Linked DNA regions of Homo sapiens: all the other regions are reported to be linked to region 3. Evidence: microRNA targets listed by miRTarBase, many of them from high-throughput screens and not tested one by one. Region 3 holds a microRNA gene; each other region holds the end of a gene's coding sequence.

What was found. Region 3 holds the annotated microRNA hsa-miR-651-3p (AAAGGAAAGUGUAUCCUAAAAG, at 2,654-2,675, opposite strand). A microRNA usually pairs through its seed, bases 2 to 8, with sites in the 3' UTR of a target mRNA and lowers its output. Matches are read on the target gene's strand: a 7mer-m8 pairs with bases 2 to 8, a 7mer-A1 pairs with bases 2 to 7 and ends in A, and an 8mer does both.
Region 1: miRTarBase lists SKI as a target of hsa-miR-651-3p. Seed matches in the 3' UTR shown: 7mer-m8 at 3,331-3,337.
Region 2: miRTarBase lists CSDE1 as a target of hsa-miR-651-3p. Seed matches in the 3' UTR shown: 7mer-m8 at 2,795-2,801.
Region 4: miRTarBase lists TAF2 as a target of hsa-miR-651-3p. Seed matches in the 3' UTR shown: 7mer-m8 at 3,305-3,311, 7mer-A1 at 2,836-2,842 and 7mer-m8 at 2,764-2,770.
Region 5: the mRNA of LAPTM4A is a reported target of hsa-miR-651-3p. Seed matches in the 3' UTR shown: 7mer-m8 at 632-638.

The regions. Positions count from the first base shown.
Region 1 is chr1:2,306,133-2,310,132 of GRCh38, forward strand. It overlaps SKI (SKI proto-oncogene), which reads left to right. Exons shown (of 7, transcript NM_003036.4): 6 at 1-118; 7 at 445-4,000. The coding sequence ends at 633. Among named protein-coding and RNA genes, the nearest start is that of SKI, 80 kb to the left of the region's middle. RefSeq lists an enhancer at 522-1,155.
Region 2 is chr1:114,714,939-114,718,938 of GRCh38, forward strand. CSDE1 (cold shock domain containing E1) reads right to left here. Exons shown (of 20, transcript NM_001007553.3): 19 at 3,675-3,807; 20 at 1,978-3,278. The coding sequence ends at 3,231. NRAS (NRAS proto-oncogene, GTPase) reads right to left here and starts at 1,833. Exons shown (of 7, transcript NM_002524.5): 1 at 1,720-1,833; 2 at 1,112-1,239. The coding sequence starts at 1,222. RefSeq lists enhancers at 1,529-1,628, 1,639-1,838.
Region 3 is chrX:8,125,541-8,129,692 of GRCh38, reverse strand. MIR651 (microRNA 651) reads right to left here and starts at 2,728; the gene lies at 2,632-2,728. All of the region lies in intron 1 of LOC107985675 (a long non-coding RNA gene), which reads right to left.
Region 4 is chr8:119,728,595-119,732,594 of GRCh38, forward strand. It overlaps TAF2 (TATA-box binding protein associated factor 2), which reads right to left. Exons shown (of 26, transcript NM_003184.4): 26 at 2,180-3,592. The coding sequence ends at 3,330. Among named protein-coding and RNA genes, the nearest start is that of ENPP2, 92 kb to the left of the region's middle.
Region 5 is chr2:20,029,539-20,033,538 of GRCh38, reverse strand. It overlaps LAPTM4A (lysosomal protein transmembrane 4 alpha), which reads left to right. Exons shown (of 7, transcript NM_014713.5): 7 at 260-889. The coding sequence ends at 334. Among named protein-coding and RNA genes, the nearest start is that of MATN3, 19 kb to the right of the region's middle.

The sequences.
Region 1 (4,000 bases), not on the chromosome of region 3:
GAAAGAGGCCAACGAGTCACGGCTGCGCCTGAAGCGGGAGCTGGAGCAGGCGCGGCAGGCCCGGGTGTGCGACAAGGGCTGCGAGGCGGGCCGCCTGCGCGCCAAGTACTCGGCCCAGGTATGCGGGTGGGGAGACTGAGGCACGCAGCACGGTGGGCGTGGAGCCGCCGTGGGCCCCGGTGGCCAGTCCTGCCCAGCCGGAAAGGCCTTGGAGCAGAAGCCAGGCCCGGGACCACGTTCCGTGCGTGCCCCCCCGACGGGCACAGGGTGGGTGGTTGCTGGGCCCTGCGTCTCGTGAGCCTGTGTCCTAGCAGGTGGAGGAGGGGCCGGCACGCGGCACTGGGGAGGGACAGGGAGCGGCGCAGGAGCCTCGGGTGGGGGAAGCAGCGTCGGGCCGGGGCAGGGCAGCGAGCAGGCGCCGCTGACCACTCGGCTCCCTTTCAGATCGAAGACCTGCAGGTGAAGCTGCAGCACGCGGAGGCGGACCGGGAGCAGCTGCGGGCCGACCTGCTGCGGGAGCGCGAGGCCCGGGAGCACCTGGAGAAGGTGGTGAAGGAGCTGCAGGAACAGCTGTGGCCGCGGGCCCGCCCCGAGGCTGCGGGCAGCGAGGGCGCTGCGGAGCTGGAGCCGTAGATTCCGTGCCTGCCGCCGCAGCGCCGCCGACAACGCGGGTGCAGGGGGGCGCGGCTGGGCGGTGCAGCTCCGCCCGGCTCCGCCCCTGCAGCCCACACAGCACAACGTCTTACCGTGCCTATTACCAAGCGAGTGTTTGTAACCATGTAGTTTTGGAACCCACTGCAAAATTTTCTACTGGCCAAGTTCAAGTGAGTAAGCCGCGTCCCCCAACTACAGCTGGAGACGGGGCCAGCTCGGCGGCCTGCTGGTCCTCTGCTTGCTGGAACATTCTAACATTTACACTTTTGTTATAAGCTATTTAAAACCAGTAAGGAGACTTGAAATTCAGAAAATCAACACATTTTTAAATGACTAACTTCTAAAAGCCCCAACACATGACGCCATCTGAAGACCCGCAACGGAGTGGGGGTGGCGGCCGCCCCACCCTCCCCACCCGGGGAAGCCATCACAGCTCATCTGCCCGCGGCTGCGTGAGGACAGCAGGGGTTTTTCTTCAGAGTCTATTTTTTCAGCGACAAGGACCCAGGTCTTCCTGCTGCTGCCAGGGAGAGCAGGGACAGTGCCGCGTGCGAGATGAGCTCGAACACTGCCCGCCTTACTGCCGCCTACCCCGCCCGCCACGCCGCCGTCGATGCCAGCGCTGTCCCCACGGGTACCAGGAAGTGCAGAGCCGCACAGGAGCTGCCCCGGAGCTGAGGGGACGGTCTTCGGCTCCTCTGCACCCCGTGATTCTGCCCACGCTCCTCCACCACGAGGCACTGACCTGCGTCGGGTGGTGACCGTGGCTGGCGGTCACGCCCTCAGCCCCTCCGGGCACACGTGCCGCCTGACCGGGCGACCCTTTTCAGTTCGGCAAACGTCGCTCCCTTCATTTTGGGACTGAGGCTGCAGCATTGGAACAAAAGAGCATTATTTCAATTTTTCTTTCTTTTTTTTTGTTCGTTCATTTAAACGTATATTTAGAACTGCACTTTGTCCACAACCTTCCCTTCTCTTTCTATTCCCCAGTGAACTGAGGTTTTTACCGATTTATAGAGCAGTCAAATCCGAAGTGCTCGAGTGCTTAGAAACCCCCTCTGGTGCTTGGTTGAACAAGGGAATCACAAGAAAACGAAAATGCAAAAACTGAACTTCGGGGGTCGTTCTGTGCCTTCCAGCATCTTGTACAGCAAATCCTGACTCGTGTCTTTTTACCCCCAAGATATCTGTCTTCAGTAGCGACTGAATCTGCCACTCTCAGAATAAGTTCCTTGCATTTATTCCAAATAATCTCGTTTACTCTCACCTGTTTATGCAAATTGTATAAGGTTTCTTATGCCCAAGCTTGAAAAATGATTTCCCAGTAGACAAGAGGCGGCTACCTATCCTACAGTTACGGTATTTATTTACATAAGAAGATCTTACAGGAGTTCTTTGCTTGAATCCGTTCTAACACCCGCGGCAGCTGCACGCGCTCACAGAAGGTGGAGGTTACTTGCCCAGGTACAGACGACCTCGGGGCAGTGACGAGCAAAGACCAGAGACTGCTGAGCCCTCGCATCTGGGTGGCGGAATTGCCTGCGGGGTTTTGCCCTTGGTTTACTGAGGGGGGTCTTGGTTGCTGCTGAAGCCCCCCACCCCTTCTAAAGTGCAATGCAAAAGGGACATCATGTATATGCAGCGTTTGTTTGGAATTTTCTTTGCTTTTGTTTTCTTTGCGGTTGTTCTGTGTGCATGGATTCCACACCTCTGCCGTAGGTAGATCCGTCAGCGGGCATTATTACCGTGTCTTGTAAAGGGTCGGTTTTGTTATGCAACATGCAGAATGCTGTTTTTAGCCTTGTTTTACCAGAGTTGTTTTTTTTTTCAGTTATTTCTTCAAGGGAAACTAAATGATTTAGTTGGAGCAAAGCTTTAAGTGTGTTGGCGTGCTTCTGTGTGGCTGTCCTGTGTCGCCAGGTCGAAGATCACAGTGAGGTAGAGGCCCTGCCCCATCCCCAGGGCCGCCAGGCTTGCTCCGTTTGCTTTGAGTTTTTAGACCCCAGAGGGAGATGAGCTTTTCCAAGCTGTGTCTGGGCCAGAGCCTCTCCTTGCCCTTGCTCCATCCCGACGGTCACCGTTGGGTCCACGCCTCCACCGCCCCATCTTGCCCCAAACGGAAAGCGCTGTATCTGCAGTGGCAGCCCTTCCCCACTTCGGCTCTGGGAGGGTCCAGCCAGTGTCACCTGGGCCCACCCTTTCCTGCAGCTGCCAGGCCCGTGCGGTCAGTGGGACCCGGACGTGGGCAGGCGAGCTCGGGACCCTCCCAGGCAGTTCCCACAGCTCTTGCCTCGGCTCACCAGGGTCACTTCCACTGTCAGGGGCCTGAGGGGGCAGCTGTGGCTGCAGGGCTGCTCTGGACTGAGGGGTCCCAGGCCCCGAGGGGTGCACGCCTGGCTCCCCTTGGCACAGGTGCGAGTCCGTTTCTTTTCAGCAGAAGGGGGAAGAGGTGTCCGCTGTGTGGGCTGCTGACTCCTCTGTGTGTGAGGCCCTTCATCTAAGTGATTGTGTATTCAGTTTAATTCTCATTATATTTCTATACTGAAAGAAGATTTTTAACGAAGGGAAAAACAACAGCAATAACATTCATATCTCTGGAGCAGCTAACTCATACACGTAATGTCTGCTTTTCGTACAGAACTAGCCAATGTAAAAACAGTTCACCTGTAAATACTTTTTCCTTTTTCACCGTTGTATTATACATGTATATGCTGGGTCCTTTTTCAGAAACTCTTTTCTTACCTGAGAGTTGTCTTGTTTTCTGGGCTGTTTTTAACTGAGGAAAAAAAAAATGCTTTCCTGCCGGGGGGCAGGGGAGACGGAGAAACCCATGTGCGTTTCCCATGTGACCCCCTCCTCCCTGTGGGTCTGAGCCCCGGCCCCCCCCACCTCCTCCTCCCTGTGGGTCCGAACCCCGGCCCCCCCACCCCCTCCTCCCTGTGGGTCCGAACCCCGGCCCCCCCACCCCCTCCTCCCTGTGGGTCCGATCCCCGGCCCCCCCCACCCCCTCCTCCCTGTGGGTCCGAACCCCGGCCCCCCCCCCACCCCCTCCTCCCTGTGGGTCCGAACCCCGGCCCCCCCACCCCTCCCTCAGCCCACCAGGGTCCAGGGAGATGTTCGTTCTCGCTTTAAGTCAGGAGTCACAAATGACTTTTTTTTTTCAATTAAGGAAAAAGCTCCATCTCTACCTTTAACATCACCCAGACCCCCGCCCCTGCCCGTGCCCCACGCTGCTGCTAACGACAGTATGATGCTTACTCTGCTACTCGGAAACTATTTTTATGTAATTAATGTATGCTTTCTTGTTTATAAATGCCTGATTTAAAAAGAAAAGAGCTTGGCATAT
Region 2 (4,000 bases), not on the chromosome of region 3:
GATGGTAGGGAGGCCAGGTGTTGATTAAAATAATCTCTAAAGTTAGGCATTTCTAAACTGAACAAAATTACAAAACCCTTTATTTATTTATCTATTTATTTATTTTTTGAGACGAAGTCTCGCTCTGTTGCCCAGGCTGGAGGTCTGTGGTGTGATCTCGGCTCACTGCACCCTCTGCCTCTGGTTCAAGCGATTCTCCTGCCTCAGCCTCCTGAGTAGCTGGGATTACAGGTGCCTGCCACCACACCCAGCTAATTTTTGTATTTTTAGTAGAGACGGGGTTTCACCATGTTGATCAGGCTGGTCTTGAACTCCTGACCTTGTGATCCGCCTGCCTCAGCCTCCCAAAGTGCTGGGATTACAGGCGTGAGCCACCGTGTCCGGCAAAACCCTTTATTTAAAGAGCCTTAGGTGCCACTTACTGAAGACAATCTGTACCATGAACTCTCATAATAACAATAGAATCCCTAAGTACTATTACATAGTGCTTTACCATTCATAAATAACTTAAATATATTATTTAACTTTCCATAACATCCCTGTGTGGTAGGCAGGACAAGTTTATGGTAATTTAAAACATGAGGAAAATGAGGTTGGGAGAGATTCAGTTGCTCAATATCACACAACTAAATAAACTGCAAACAGGGACCAAAATCCTAGGCATAAAGACTAAAAATCTCAAGTTCTTGCTACTCCAATCATCTGGTCTCAGCTGCTTCAACTAGCTAATAAATAAATATTGAAGAACACTCATCTCTGAATCCTTTATCTCCATCCTATTATCTCCCATACAATCAGACAGTCTCGCTACTATGGCCTGTGTTTCTCATGTAATAGAGCTGTTATATATGAAGAAACTCATGAATGAACTCAACACTGAGTTTGCAATAGTTTACAGAACTGTTAAAAACTGGACAGGTTTTAGAAACTTCAGCAGCTAATAAAAATGAACTGTTCTCTATAAACACGTTAAGCTTATTGCATAACTGAATGTATACCCAAAATAACTTTTTACTTTCTCTCCTCTTATTCCTTTAATACAGAATATGGGTAAAGATGATCCGACAAGTGAGAGACAGGATCAGGTCAGCGGGCTACCACTGGGCCTCACCTCTATGGTGGGATCATATTCATCTACAAAGTGGTTCTGGATTAGCTGGATTGTCAGTGCGCTTTTCCCAACACCACCTGCTCCAACCACCACCAGTTTGTACTCAGTCATTTCACACCAGCAAGAACCTGTTGGAAACCAGTAATCAGGGTTAATTGGCGAGCCACATCTACAGTACTTTAAAGCTTTCTATAATCAATGGAAATGAAAACCCTAGTGTGACCTTCCATTTGGTTCTTAAAGTGACTAGAGAACGCAAAAACACCGGATTAATATCGGCCTCACACTTCTGGAGTAGTTTTCTAGCAACCCCCATCCTTAGCTATTTTTCAACAGTCCTTGGGCCCCGCCCTCAGCCTAAGCAATGGAAATCCCCCTTCCTATTACTCCCCGAAGGCTTCTCAGCTCTAGCAGGAAGCCTCCAGGCCGCAACTCCTTCCCATTCTCCCTTCTGTCTCCAAAGATCTCCCCACGTAGGCACCAAATGGAAGGACCCCCGCCCAAGGCCTTTGTCTCCAGCTGATAGATTCTGCTCCATTTCTGGCATCAGTGAAACGCCTGAACATTCCACAGCCCAAAGCCGAACACTATGCATGAGATAAACTTACCTCAAGCTCCACTGCCTCTGCTTTGGACAGATTTAGGACCACAGCCGGGAAAAATGTTGGAGACCCCGGAACCGCCATGAACAGCCCCCACCAAGGAGCGGCACTTCCGGCCCCGCCCGCTACGTAATCAGTCGGCGCCCCAGGCGCCTGAGTCCCCGCCCCGGCCACGTGGGCCTCCGAACCACGAGTCATGCGGCAGGCCGCACCCAGACCCGCCCCTCCCACACGGGACGTTTCAATAATGAAAGCGCTAGGTGCTAGTGTCTCAAAAATCAGTAAAACTTTATTCGCTTCCATTCTTTCGCCATTAACAGAAAACTGGAGAAAGCAAAAATGTTTCGTGTTTACAAAGATAAACGGCCTCTTTACCCAGAGATCAAAACCTCAAACGACAAGGGGGAAGATAAAACCGCCCTCCCCCACATCCCCTGAGCTGACCCTTGTCATCTTAGACAAAGCCTTCAGTCCACTGGCCAGGGACCCTGTATATGGCCAATTCAAGAAGAGGGCCAAGAAATCAGACCCATCCATTCCCGTGATATAAAGTTGAACAGAAGCTACACCAAGGGTCAAGTGTCTGTATTTTACAGGACACAGTAACCAGGCGGCTACTTATAAAAAAAAACAAGATTCATTTCAGGCACAACTTTTTTATTTTTTTTTGTTTTGTTTTTAAATCAGTAAAAGAAACCGGGTCCTAGAAGCTGCAGTGATCTAAGCAGCAGCAAGTTTGTGCATTCATTTTTTTTGTTTTTGTTTAAATATGTTTAAATTATCACACTGCTGGCACTCCTCATTTGCATGAAATTCTGCACCATACTTACTAATTGTAGTAAAGTTACCCCCCAACCCACGAAAAAAAACCTACTCTGGAAGAAAATTTTCACTGAAATATAACCAAACTTCTTTAAGTGGATTGTGACAAGATTATAAATGATATGAAAAATAACATTTTAAAATTTGGCCATCAACTTTAAGAAATGGTTTGCCTATACAAATTTTTGTAATTTTTAAAAGATAATATATTCTACCCTCATATGGTCCTCAGAATTAAAGCATAATGAACAGGAAGAAAAAGGAAAAGAATGCAACTGAGTGCTAAGGCAGAACATCTTGCCAGAAGTAATTAATGAAGGTAGAGTATATAATGAAAAGTGCAGAATTTCATAGGGCCAACAAGATAACAGTCTATATTTTTCACTTACACAGGCAAAGTGGATTCTGCAATTACCAGTTGCGTTAAATGCACCAAATAAAGCTCCTAAAATTGATACTATAAGGCGCCACCTTAAGTTTTTCCAGGCTGCAACTGTGCATTATTTAAAATGGTTTTCTTAAATTTATTTATTTTTTTAAACATAACACGAGGAAGGTGTTAAAACTGGTGTAATAGCTCAATAGAATAAGTATTCCAGATTTCGGGAGGGATGAAGAGGGAGATATTCAGAACCCTTCACCAGATTCCCCCCAACTTGATCATAGTGGATTAATGGTGTGCTTTGTGGATGTGGTTAGTCAATGACACCAGCTTGACGGATCTTTCTTTCTGCACCAAACCCCTGTGGGGGGGAGAAAAAAAAAACCCTGCAGTTAATGATTTGAGCGCACAACAATCATAGTACATTCACTATTCCGAAATGAAACTACAAAAGCATTATTTTTAATCATCTTATGCAGTACTAATTCTTTCCTAGAGGAGAAAATCCACAGTAAGCACTCCTGACCCATTCATTACCTAAACTGTCTTCAAAGCATCAAGAAAAGAAATGTGCTTCTTACTGTAAGCAACCATTAGGTTAGGGGGCTGAACCAATGTGTAGAAAGTCCTAACTAGTTATAAGCAATATGGAAGTCTCCCTGCTTCATTAAGTTTCCTGACCTATTGTTTAAATAGGACCACATATTTTATGTTGGTCTATCAGTTGGCCTCCCCCAAGCCTTGTATGCCCTCATACCATTGAGTTATCTGGTCCCCTTGGCTGACGAAGAACCATTAGGCGAGGAGCACTGGCATCATCCAGAGTGATATTCTTCAAGCGATTGACCAACCGATCAGGTCGAGGAGCTGCAACAGCCTTGGGGCCCTCACTGTAATTAAGTCAAAAGATGAGAAGAAACCACACTTGGTGGGCAGACAGCAAGCACTTGCAAAGGAGTGTGTTTTCCACCTAACTGCCCAAATGACTCACTTTTTATGATGGGACTCTTGCCTCATATACCTAGCTAGAAAGACAGGACAGACAAGTTTGTTTATGTATTATTATCCCCAACTCAAGGTCCC
Region 3 (4,152 bases):
CTCTCTTGCTCTTCATATAAAGCCATCAGTCCCACTCTTGTTACAACCCATCAATACATTAATTCATAAACTGATTAATCCATTAATTAATAAGTGGATAATCCATTCTTGACAGCAGAGTCTTTATGACCCAGGCTCCGCTTAAAGGCCCCACCTCTCAACATCAGGGATTAAGTTTCAACATGAATTTTGGAAGGGACAAACACTCAAATCATAGCAGACCATGATTGCACAACAGTGTAATATCAGTATGGTAGGCTAGAGTTAGGTCAGATTTGACTTACACCAGCGCTGACAGTCTTTTATAAGTTATGGGGCCTTTTATATGAATAGTAATATCTATTCTGAAAGGAAAATAAAAACTTGGGGCCCCAACTCACTATGCCAGAAGAAAACAAACTAAGCTGAAAATTGAGTCGTGCAAGAAACTGCCTTTCCTCTTGTTCCTCTACAGACAGCTAAGATAAAAGGTTAAATGTCTCCATAGGTAGCTACTCTGTGTTCACCTTATCTTATGTAAAGTGCTGATTTATGGAGCAAGAGATAAATATATTATTGACTATTCCCCAACCTGCTTCCTTTCACTTGCAGCATGTGGATTCAGTAATGTGACCATACCCTCCCTTTTTCCCCTCCAGACAGCTATTCCTCTTCAAATGCTGAAGTCCTCAACATTATCTTTGGAGAAAGGCACAAACCTCCTTCACGATTATTTCCTTCTCAGTGGCAAAATAAACTTCTAAATTGATTGAGACCTGTCTCAGATACCTTTTGGTTTATACTATCTTGCAGAACTCTTAAGGCAAATGGAAATAGCGTATGTAAAATCCTTTGCAGAATTCCTGACATATAACAGGAACTTAATAAATACTAAATATTGGTAGATATTGGTATGCTTTTTCTAACGTCAAAGAAGGTTTATAGCAGCTATAACTAAATAAAGAAGATTGAAGGCAGCCTTAGCTCTAAAATAAAGTCCCTCTCCCAAGGGAATTTAGGGTCTCTCAGGAGAGATTAGATAAGGACATTCATGAAAACAATCCAGAGCCGTATGGATATGATTGGAATAAAGGGCTTGAAGAAAGAGTTGTATGTAATCTTAGGATGCAGACTTCACTTCTGGCTGGTGCAATCAATGAATGAATGCTTTGTGGAGGATGGAGCATTTGAGCAGGGCCATGAAGAAAGGTTGCTATAGACAGAGGTATCAGGTACTTGCAACTAGAAGGAAAAGAACCAGTACCAGAAAGTGGAAACTATAATGTATTTAAAAAACAATGCAAGACAGTGACTGGTTGGGGATTCCAGTTGATGTAAGGCCATGTCTGGGAAAGAATGCACAGGACAGTATTGTGTCCTCAAAGACCAGCTAAGGGCCGGGCACAGTGGCTAACACCTGTAATCCCAGCACTTTGGGAGGCCGAGGCAGAAAGATCACTTGAGATCAGGAGTTTGAGACCAGCCTGGCCAACATGGTGAAATCCTGTCTCTACTAAAAATACAAAAATTAGTTGGGCATGGTGGCACACACCTATAGTCCTGTGGTCCCAGCTACTCGAGAGGCTGAGGCAGAAGATCACTTGAACCCGGGAGGCGGAGGTTGCAGTGAGCCGAGATTGTGCCACTGCACTCCAGAATGGGCAACAGAGCGAGATCCTTTCTTAAAAAAAAAAAAAAGGAAAAAAAATTGGCTAAGAATTTAGGACTTTCTTAAGGAGATAAAGGGAAGATATTTAAGACTCTCATAGAACACAATTTAGACGGCTAAAAAGCTAAAGATGAATGCAATGTATCATAGCATCATCTTACATGAGTAGGTCTTGGGGCTTGGTTTGGTTTGTTTTGCATTTCACAGTCCTTTACCAGAGAGTTGCAGGTTGTTATCAACATTTTCTGCAGACTTTTGGAGATAAACTGTTTTATCTTAGAGTGATTCCTCCTGATACAATATAATGAGAGGAATACAAACCCCTTTATAGAAAAGGCACACATTTCAGCATACAGCCTAGGTAAAAAGTAAGGGTTAACTGGCTTAGTTGAGATTAATTATATAGATGTTTATTTCCCAGTTGTTATGTGTCTGTAACATAAAAGTGGTTATTGACTAAAAGTAGATGTGCTTCATTAATATCAGTGTGAGGAGAAGAGCAACAGGGAAATGCAGGCACCCATGCCGTGTGGGCTGGAATCTGGAAGACGTGGCCCCTGGCCAGGTATGCGCTGATGACAGGTGACATTCACCTTGCAATCTGCCATAAAATGGGAATCATAATACCTGCTCAGTCCTCCAGATGAAATATTGACTGGAAGTCATATATAAAATCGTCAAGCAAAATGCACAATAAAATTAAAATTGCTACTTTTCAAGACATAGGAAGTGTATTAATTGTTTTTTCCTGCTTCTTTTCTGTCAGGATCAACGTTGAATAAAGTTTTGTCAAACACATCTCACTTGATGCATCTCATATCACTTAAAAAATAACATTGGGAAAGTCTTTCCTTTCACTTTATTCATCCTGACTCTTCTTTGCTAAATATTCTGTATACAAATTTCCACATAACATTATGTTTAGAGTTGTACTATCCACACAAAATGGTTCATATATGGATCTCTTGAAGGTTGCATGTCAGAAACACATTAAACTGTCATTGCCTTTTAGGATACACTTTCCTTTTGCATTTTTATTTGAACAAAAGTCAAGCTTATCCTAAAAAGCAGTGATAGATTTCTGTAGATCTAGGGAATTGTTAATACATTTTGTTATCTGTATCATACATTTGTACACAGCTGCTGAGTAATTCAACTGTTTAGAGTTGAACTAATGTTTTTGAACAATAAGTCAAATTCCACGATTTAATCTACATCACAAGAATTTCACTTCCATGGCATTATGGAAAAATGCGCAATCTGTTGTCAAGGTTGAATTTCATTTCTGCTTTCACAAATAAATTATGCCTGTCATTTCCATTAGACACAGTCCTTACCTAGATCGTTACAAAACATCTTTGAGAAGCTTAGGGCATCTCCTATGTTCCACTTCAGATAGAGATATAATTTACTGAGGGGTTAGAAAGAATGGTCAATAAAGCTGACAAAATATTTTAGCATTTGGAAAAAAATTTAAATGCCTTAGTGCAATAATTCCTGGGGAAACTATGGTCGCTAAAATGACTATAATTCTTATTCATGTTCATTCCCGGTTTAGGGGCCTTCCTTAAAGAAACTAATTTCAGAATTTATTTAAGTCATAATAAAGGGTCTTAAAACCACCTGATTTCCTGAAGTTTTCTTTACCACTCTGATTTCCTGGTGCCTTCCTCTCTTCCCTGTGTCTAGGTGGAGAGTGGGAGGTGCACATATGAGGTAATGATGTGTGTGATGATGTAATGACGTGTCTGATTATGCAATGATGTGTTTGGTGATGAAATGATGAATGTAATGATGCATGAGAGGCTCTTGTTGATTGCAGATGATAAGAATAAAAGACTTAGCTCACTACTTCTGGCAGGGTCTGGTAAGAAGGCATTACCACCCTATGCATTCCAACAGAAGGAATCTATTGAAAATGAATCATTTAGAAAGGGGCAGGAGATCCAGAAGAAGGTAGAAAGGGAAGGTAAGATGGCCAAGAGATTAAGAACTGCAGAAAGCTCCTACCACTTCTGTGCTGAAGGAGTGAAAGAGAAAATGGTTTCACCAAGAGCCCGTAATCCCCCACCACTGAGGCTCTGAGAGTATTCATGGCAGCCTTAGAACCAAGACCACCACCTTGCAGGAATGCAGGAGCCCAGGGCCCTGATGCTGTCTCAGGACTCTGGGAGCCTGAAGCTGCCAGCCCGTCACCACCATGGCTTGAGCCAGAGCCTGCACCTGCCGTGCCCCACAGGCTGCTGCATTTGTGCTCGACACTGCTGCCTCACTGCGACCACACTGCCTGGGGACCACGTGGGAGCCAGTCTTTCCCTTATGGAGGCTCTGGACAAAGGGAGGGAACCCAAAAGCCTTCCAGTTCCTGTCTGTGCTTCCCATTGGAAGAGCCCCATATTCCAATCTCACACAGTTCACCCCCACCCCGACCCTTTCAAAACTCATGCAAGTTCTTCTCTTTGGTAATCACTAATCCAACACCCATACTCAGAGGCTCCAGACTG
Region 4 (4,000 bases), not on the chromosome of region 3:
TCAGCCTCCTGAGGAGCTGGGATTACAGGCACGGGCCACCATGCTCGGCTAATTTTTGTATTTTTAGTAGAGACGGGGTTTCACCATGTTGGTCAGGCTGGTCTCAAACTCCTGACCTTGTGATCTGCCCGCCTCAGCCTCCCAAAGTGCTGGGATTACAGGCGTAAGCCACTACGCCCGGCACAGTAAGAATACTTTTAAGCCCTGATTTTTAAGTAGTAATAAAATTTCTAGAATAATATATAATTGTTAAGAAAACCATACTTTGATGATAAAAATAGTCCAAATAGTATGCATATCAGGGTGACATGAAAAATCATATCAGACAATATAGAATTTAAGCCAAAAACTATAAAAAAGAGGCAAAGGACACAATGACAAAAGGACCAATTCATTCAGAGGGTATTACAATTGTAAACATATATGCACTCAACCTCAAAGCATCTTAATACTATATATAAGAGAAATATTAAAGGATCTGAAGGAGAGATAGACTGCAATACAATATTGCAGGAGATACTGAAGGAGCCTTCAATACCCCACTTTCAACAATGGACAGATCATTCAGACATGTAACAAGGAAACACTGAACTTTAACACTTTAGACCAAATGTACCTAACAGACATATACAAAACATTCAATCCAACAGCAACAGAGTATACATTCTTCTGGAGCACATATGAACCATTCTCCAGAATCTAACATGTTAGGGCACAAAACAAGCTTCAGCAAATTTAAGAAGACTGAAATCTTCTTGATTTCTGTCAATTCAATTAAATTTCAGTTCATTTCAAAATTCTGAAAATTCTACTTGAAATCATATTTTTCTGACCACAATTATGAAACTAGAAGTCAAAACGAGAACTTCAGAAAATTCATAAGTATATGGGAATTAAACAACATGCTCTTGAACGCATGAACTACCAATGAGTCAATGAAGAAATTAAAAGGGAACTTAAAAAATATGTTCAGACAAGGCTGGGTGTGGTGGTTCATGCCTGTAATCCCAATGCTTTGGGAGGTTGAGGTGGGAGGACGGCTTGTGGCCAGAAGTTCAAGACCAGCCTGGGCAACACGGTGAGACCCTGTCTCTACCAAAAAAAAAAAAAAAAAATTAAATAGAAGGAAAAAAAAAGTTGAACCCCTATTTTTTTGTTAAAATAAACTGCAGATGGATTCAAGTTGGATGAAGAACGTAAACCTGAAACATAAAATTTTAAGAACATTCCAAAAAAGTGAATTATTATATAATTGTAGAATGAGGAAGATCTTAGTAACTATGACATAATATGCAAAAGCCATAAAAGATAAAGCATAATTTAAAAAAAAACAATTTCTGCAAGTCTGTATTATATGCTACTGCTTGTTTTAAAAAATCTGTACATACTGTAAAAATACATGGAAATATATATATAGACATGTGCTGGAAAGATATATATAATACTGTCAAAAATTACTGCCTCTGGGAAAGGAGACTGGGAGACTTAGACTGAAACTGCATTGTGTTTAATTATCTATTTCAAAAATGTGAATAAAATACCTTTTGCGTTGTCTGCTCCCAACCAGAAGCATAAATAATCAAGAGTTCACCATAAAAAGAAGTTCCCTGGAAGAAACATCTAATATAAACATCTGATAAAGAAATAATATACATAAGGTTCCTGGTACAATGTCTAGCATACAAGAGGTGCCTGAATTATAATAGCTAGCTATTATTTATCAATGTCTTCCTATAACACAAGTAATTATTTTGAAATGTGTGCTTTGAATTTTCAAAGTTGGGAATTCTATATATGGTATCACTATACACTCTAAAATATCCTATTTTCCAAAAATAATTTCAGTTGGACAACATTCAATTAATTGAAACTTTAAATAACTGTCATTTAGGCCCTTCAACATCTGATAATATTCCCTTTGCACTTATACTCCAGGCCAACTGCACAGCCTTCTAATTCCTGAATACACCCTTGCTTTCCTACATACCTTTGAAGATACTGTTTCTTCTGCTGAGAGAACTTTACCCCATCTCAGCCTACTGAAATCATTCCTCCTAGTGAGGCCAGCTAAAAATCCCACCTATTCACAAAGCTCTCTGCAAACTATGTGGACAGGTTTATTATATATACACACACAAGAAGGTAACACAAAATATAAAAAGCTACAAAGACAGAATGATCAACTTAAAAAGTTATTTATTAAACAAGTTAAACACAACTAAAAGTATATTTAGAGGTCCAAGATTCAAGTATTTTTGTCAAACTTTCTAATGATAAGGGGAATGATAAAAATTGAACAGATATAAAAAATATTCTTAAACAAATATTAAAGCACATGGAAAATTCAGAAATAAAAACACACCACCATATAAAGAAATCAAAATATTTCATATGTTTTTAAATGCTTATGGTATGAGAGCCAAATTGTCTATTTCCAGGTTAATAAACAATATATAAGCTCACCTTTTTAAAGGTATCATACTTTGTGTCATATAGAAATAATTTTGGAAACAGTATGTGTTGGGTGTGTAAATTGTCCACATTAAGCAAAACATATTTTACATATGAATATTTTCATTTATACTTACTGGAAAACAAAACAAAAAAACTTATAATTTAAACATCTTGATTTGAAAATAATTTTGGATTTGATAGTTCTGCTAAATTCCAACATCGTAACCGCCGAATGTGTTATCAAAAGATAGTTATTCAAAATTTTTTTAAAAAAGAATTGCTTCCCCAAATCTCAGTATTTTAGAGCAAAAGGAAAAATAACATATTCTTTGTTCATAAATTCTGATGCTTAGTTTCTACGTTAATACAAAAATGGTGCAATAAGGAAGAGTACTGTAGAAAAGCCACTGTCTTTTCAGTAGTTCCAAATGGTGTTATACAATATTTCACTGGAGATAGTGGTTGCACCACAGATTTGGCAGTTGCTTCTGTGTAAATCATAACTTTGCCCCATAACATCCACCAAAGGCTTTCAAACATAATTGACTTTGGCGGTACACATGGAGACCATGATGCGAACGGGGACTGCCAGTGGATATGAGGGCTTTTATGAAAGGGAGTTTGCTCTGTGTGTGTGTTTTGGGGAGGAAACAGCGGATGAAATAGTTTATCCAGAACTACAAAACACATTTTCCTAATTAGATCCCAACTGTATAAATAACATAAATCAAATGCTTAGAACTTAAATGAATTCAGAATTTCTGTAGGAGAGGCGAATCCTTTCCCCCCTCCCTTTTATAATTCTTCACAGAGGACAAAGCTTTAGTTACATACATTCTTCTGGACATGAAAGGAAAGGTCTTTTTGTCCCCTTCTCAGTCTGAAAGGGAAGGAGAACGAATAGACCTGCCACTGGCAGGGCTGGAGAAAGTGAAAGGCTCCTTGTCCTTTTCTTTACTGTCATGCTTATGCTTGTGTTTGTGCTTATGTTTATGCTTCTTCTTCTTTTTCTTGTGCTCATGGTGATGGTGGTGATGGTGGTCACTGTGTTTGGAGGCTGTAGATTCCTTAGTAAAGACTGAGAGTGGAGCGCTTGCCGCTGGATGCATACTCATCTCCAAAGGTGCTTGTTCTTTACCTTCAAGATTAAAAATACCCAAATGAATTCCTGCTGATGATACGGAAAGCCAGACTAAAGAAAGAGGAAGCTGATGACAGTATGTAAAGAGGGATTCCTAAGTTTTTATCACTTCTATCAGGAATGGGAGAAGTATCTAAATAAGACATGTAATTAGTTACACACAGAGTTTTTCAGCATTGTGGCCAGGAAGTTGAATATATAGTTCCTTATAGTCTATACAAATTTGGCCATATACCAGTGTGTTACCAAATCATCTTTTAAAAATTAATATTTTCTAAGTATTATGAAAAAACAATATTACACACGGTGTTATAGGTTAAGACCCACACTGGGTCCGGGGGCGGTGGCTCACTCCTGTAATCCCAGCACTTTGGGAGGCCAAGGCGGGTAGATCACTTGAGGTCA
Region 5 (4,000 bases), not on the chromosome of region 3:
GCCTGTCTAGGAATCCTTGTCCAGAAGCAGGACTCTCTCTCCCCACCTCCCTCTCTCCACCCTCCCCTTCGCTAGCAATCTTGGTAAAATTCCAGGTTATTGAGGCATCTACTTGGGAACATTTTAGCTAACAGTTTCTTCAGCTCTTCTTTATGGTTTTGTATAACCCTATTTAGGGCATAAAGTCTGAAAGCTGAATTATCTCACAAAGGATTTTAAAGGAGAATTAAATCTGATACAATTTTTTTTCTCTCTTTAGTACGTTTTGCCAACCTATGAAATGGCCGTGAAAATGCCTGAAAAAGAACCACCACCTCCTTACTTACCTGCCTGAAGAAATTCTGCCTTTGACAATAAATCCTATACCAGCTTTTTGTTTGTTTATGTTACAGAATGCTGCAATTCAGGGCTCTTCAAACTTGTTTGATATAAAATATGTTGTCTTTTGTTTAAGCATTTATTTTCAAACACTAAGGAGCTTTTTGACATCTGTTAAACGTCTTTTTGTTTTTTTGTTAAGTCTTTTACATTTTAATAGTTTTTGAAGACAATCTAGGTTAAGCAAGAGCAAAGTGCCATTGTTTGCCTTTAATTGGGGGGTGGGAAGGGAAAGAGGGTACTTGCCACATAGTTTCCTTTTTAACTGCACTTTCTTTATATAATCGTTTGCATTTTGTTACTTGCTACCCTGAGTACTTTCAGGAAGACTGACTTAAATATTCGGGGTGAGTAAGTAGTTGGGTATAAGATCTGAACTTTTCATCTGCAGAGGCAAGAAAAATATTTGACATTGTGACTTGACTGTGGAAGATGATGGTTGCATGTTTCTAGTTTGTATATGTTTCCATCTTTGTGATAAGATGATTTAATAAATCTCTTTAAATACTTAGGGTTGTCATTGTTTTTAATCCGTTACTTTTTTTTAAGATAAACCCTGACATTTTCCATTACAGTGTATTCAGAGTGCCAGTGTTTATTTTTTTTTTAACTTTGAGAATACAGTTGGCCCTTCGTATCCATGGGTTCTGTATCCATGGGTTCTATATCCATGGAGTTAATCGACTGTGGATTGAAAATATTTGGGGGGAAAAATGGATAGTTGGATCTGTACTGAACATGTACAGACTTTTTATTCTTGTCGTTGTTCTCTAAAAAATACACTATAACAATTTATGTAGCATTCACATTATATTAGATATTATAAGTAATCTAGAGATCATTTTAAAAATATGGGAGGATATGCATGGGTCATATGCAAATACTATACCATTTTATTATAAGGGACTTGAGCAACTGTGGATTTGGGTATCTGGAGGGAGAACCTGCAACCAGTCCCCCATAGATACCAAGGGACAACTGCACAATGATGCACAGTTAATTAGAAATCATTTTCTTAATCCATTAACTCTAAATTTGTGGTGAAGATATTTCTTGAATCACAGGACAGAAATTAATACCGGTGGTTTGAAAAGTGATTGCTGTAGCAATCTTTTTTTTATGTCTTATTTTTTTTCTTTCCAACTTCTTAGGTTCAGAGGGTACATGTGCAGGTTTGTAACATGGGTAAATTGTGTTGCAGGGGTTTTGTCAGTGTTTTGTCATCCAGGTTGTGAGCATAGTACCTGATAGCTAGTTTTTTGATCCTCACCCTCTACTCTCAGGTAGGCCCTGGTATCTATTACTCCCTTCTTTGTGTCCATGTGTACTTAATGTTTAGCTCCCACTTATAAGTGAGAGTATTTGGATTTCTGTTCTTGCATTAATTTGCCTAGGATAATGGCCTCCAGCTCCATCCATGCTCCTGCAGAGGACATGATCTTGTTCTTTTTTATGACTGTAGTATTCCATAATATATATGTACCACATTTTCATTATCCAGTCCACTGTTGATGGGTATTTAGGTTGATTCCATGCTTTTGCTATTGTGAATAGTGCTGTGATGAACATATGTGTACATGTGTCTTTTTGGGAGAATAATTTATATTCCTTTAGGTATATACCTGATAATAGGATTGCTGGGTTGAATGGTAGAATGTTTTAAGTTTGAGAAATCCCTTATGCTGCTTTACACAGAGATGGAACTAATTTGCATTCCCACCAACAGTGTGTAAGTGTTCCCTTTTCTCTGCAACCTTGCCAGCATATGTTTCTTTTTACTTTTTAATCATAGCTGTTCTGACTGGGGTGAGATGGATTTCTCTGATTATTAGCATTTCTCTAATGGTTAGTGATGTTGAGCATTTTTTCATTTACTTATTGGCCATGTGTATGTCTTTTGAGAAGTGTCTGTTCATGTCCTTTACCAATTTTTTTTTTTTTTTTTTGAGACAGGGTCCTCGCTCTGTCACCTAGGCTGGAGTGCAGTGGCACGATCTTGGCTCTCTGCAACCTCCACCTCCTGGGTTCAAGCGATTCTCATGACTCAGCCTCCTGTGTAGCTGGGACTACAGGTGTGTGCCACCACACCCGGCTAATTTTCGTATTTTTAGTAGAGATGGGGTTTCACCATGTTAGCTAGGCTGGTCTCGAACTCCTGACCTCAAGTGTTCCACCTTCCTCAGCCTCCCAAAGTGCTGAGATTACAGCTGTGAGCCACTACACCCAGCCTCCTTTGCCCACTTTTAATGTTGTTGTTGTTGTTGTTGTTTTGTTTTTTGCTTAAGTTCCTTATAGATTCTGAATATTAGACCTTTGTCATATCCATAGTTTGCAAATATTTTCTTCCATTCTGTAGGTTGTCTGGTTGCTCTGTTGATAGTTTCTTTAGCAGAGCAGAGAAGCTCTTTAGTTTAATTAGGTCCCATTTGTCAATTTTTGTTTTTGTTGCAGTTGCTTTTGGTGTCTTCCTCATGAAATCTTTGCCAGGGCCTACATCCAGAATGGTATTTCTTAGGTGTCCTTCTAGGGGTTTTGTTTGTTTTGTTTTTTCAGTTAGGTTTTACATGTAAGTCTTGATATGGGTTTGGATTTGTGTCCCCATCCGAATCTTATGTTGAATTGTAATCCCCAGCATTGGAGGTGGTGCCTGGTGGGAGGTGATTGGATCATGGGGGTGGTTTCTCGTGGTTTAACATCATCCTTCTTGCTGCTGTTCTCGTGATAGTGAGTTATTGCGAGATCTGTGTGTGTAGCACCTCCCCCTTCTCTCTCTTGCTCCCGCTCCTGCAATGTAAGATGCTTGGCTCCCCCTTTGCCTTCTGCCACGACTGAAAGCTCCCTGATGCCTCCCCAGAAGCTGATGCTGCCATGCTTCCTGTACAGCCTGTGGAGTGAGCCAGTTAAACCTCTGTTCTTTATAAATTATTCAGTCTCAGCTATTTCTTTATAGCAGTGCAAGAACAGACTAATAGAAGTCTTTAATCCATCTTAAGTTATTTTTATATATGGTGAAGGTGTCTAGTTCTAATCTGCATTTGGCTAACCAGTTATCCCAGCACCATTTATTGAATAGTCCTTTCCCCATTACTTATTTTTGTCAACTTTATTGAAGATCAGATGGCTGTAGTTTGTATGGCTTTATTTCTGGGTTCTGTATTTGGTTCCATTGGTCTGTCTGTTTTTGTACCAGTACCATGCTGTTTTGATTACTGTAGTCTTGTAGTATAGTTTGAAGTTGGATAATGTGATGCCTTCAGCTTTGTTCTTTCTGCTTAGGATTGCCTTGGCTATTCAGGCTTTTTTTGGTTCCATATGAATTTTGAAATAGTTTTTTCTAATTCTGTGAAAATGCCATTGGTAGTTTAATAGGAATAGCATTGAATCTGTAAACTGCTTTGGGCAGTATGGCCATTTTAACAATATTGATTCTTCCTATCTGTGAGCATGGAATCTTTTTCCATTTGTTTATGTCGTCTCTGATTTCTGTCAGCAGTGTTTTGTAATTCTCATTATAGAGATCTTTCACCTTCCTGGTTAGCTGTATTCCTAGCTACTTAAGTCTTTTGTGGCTATTGTGAATGGGATTGCATTCTTGATTTGACTCTCAGCTTGGGTATTATTG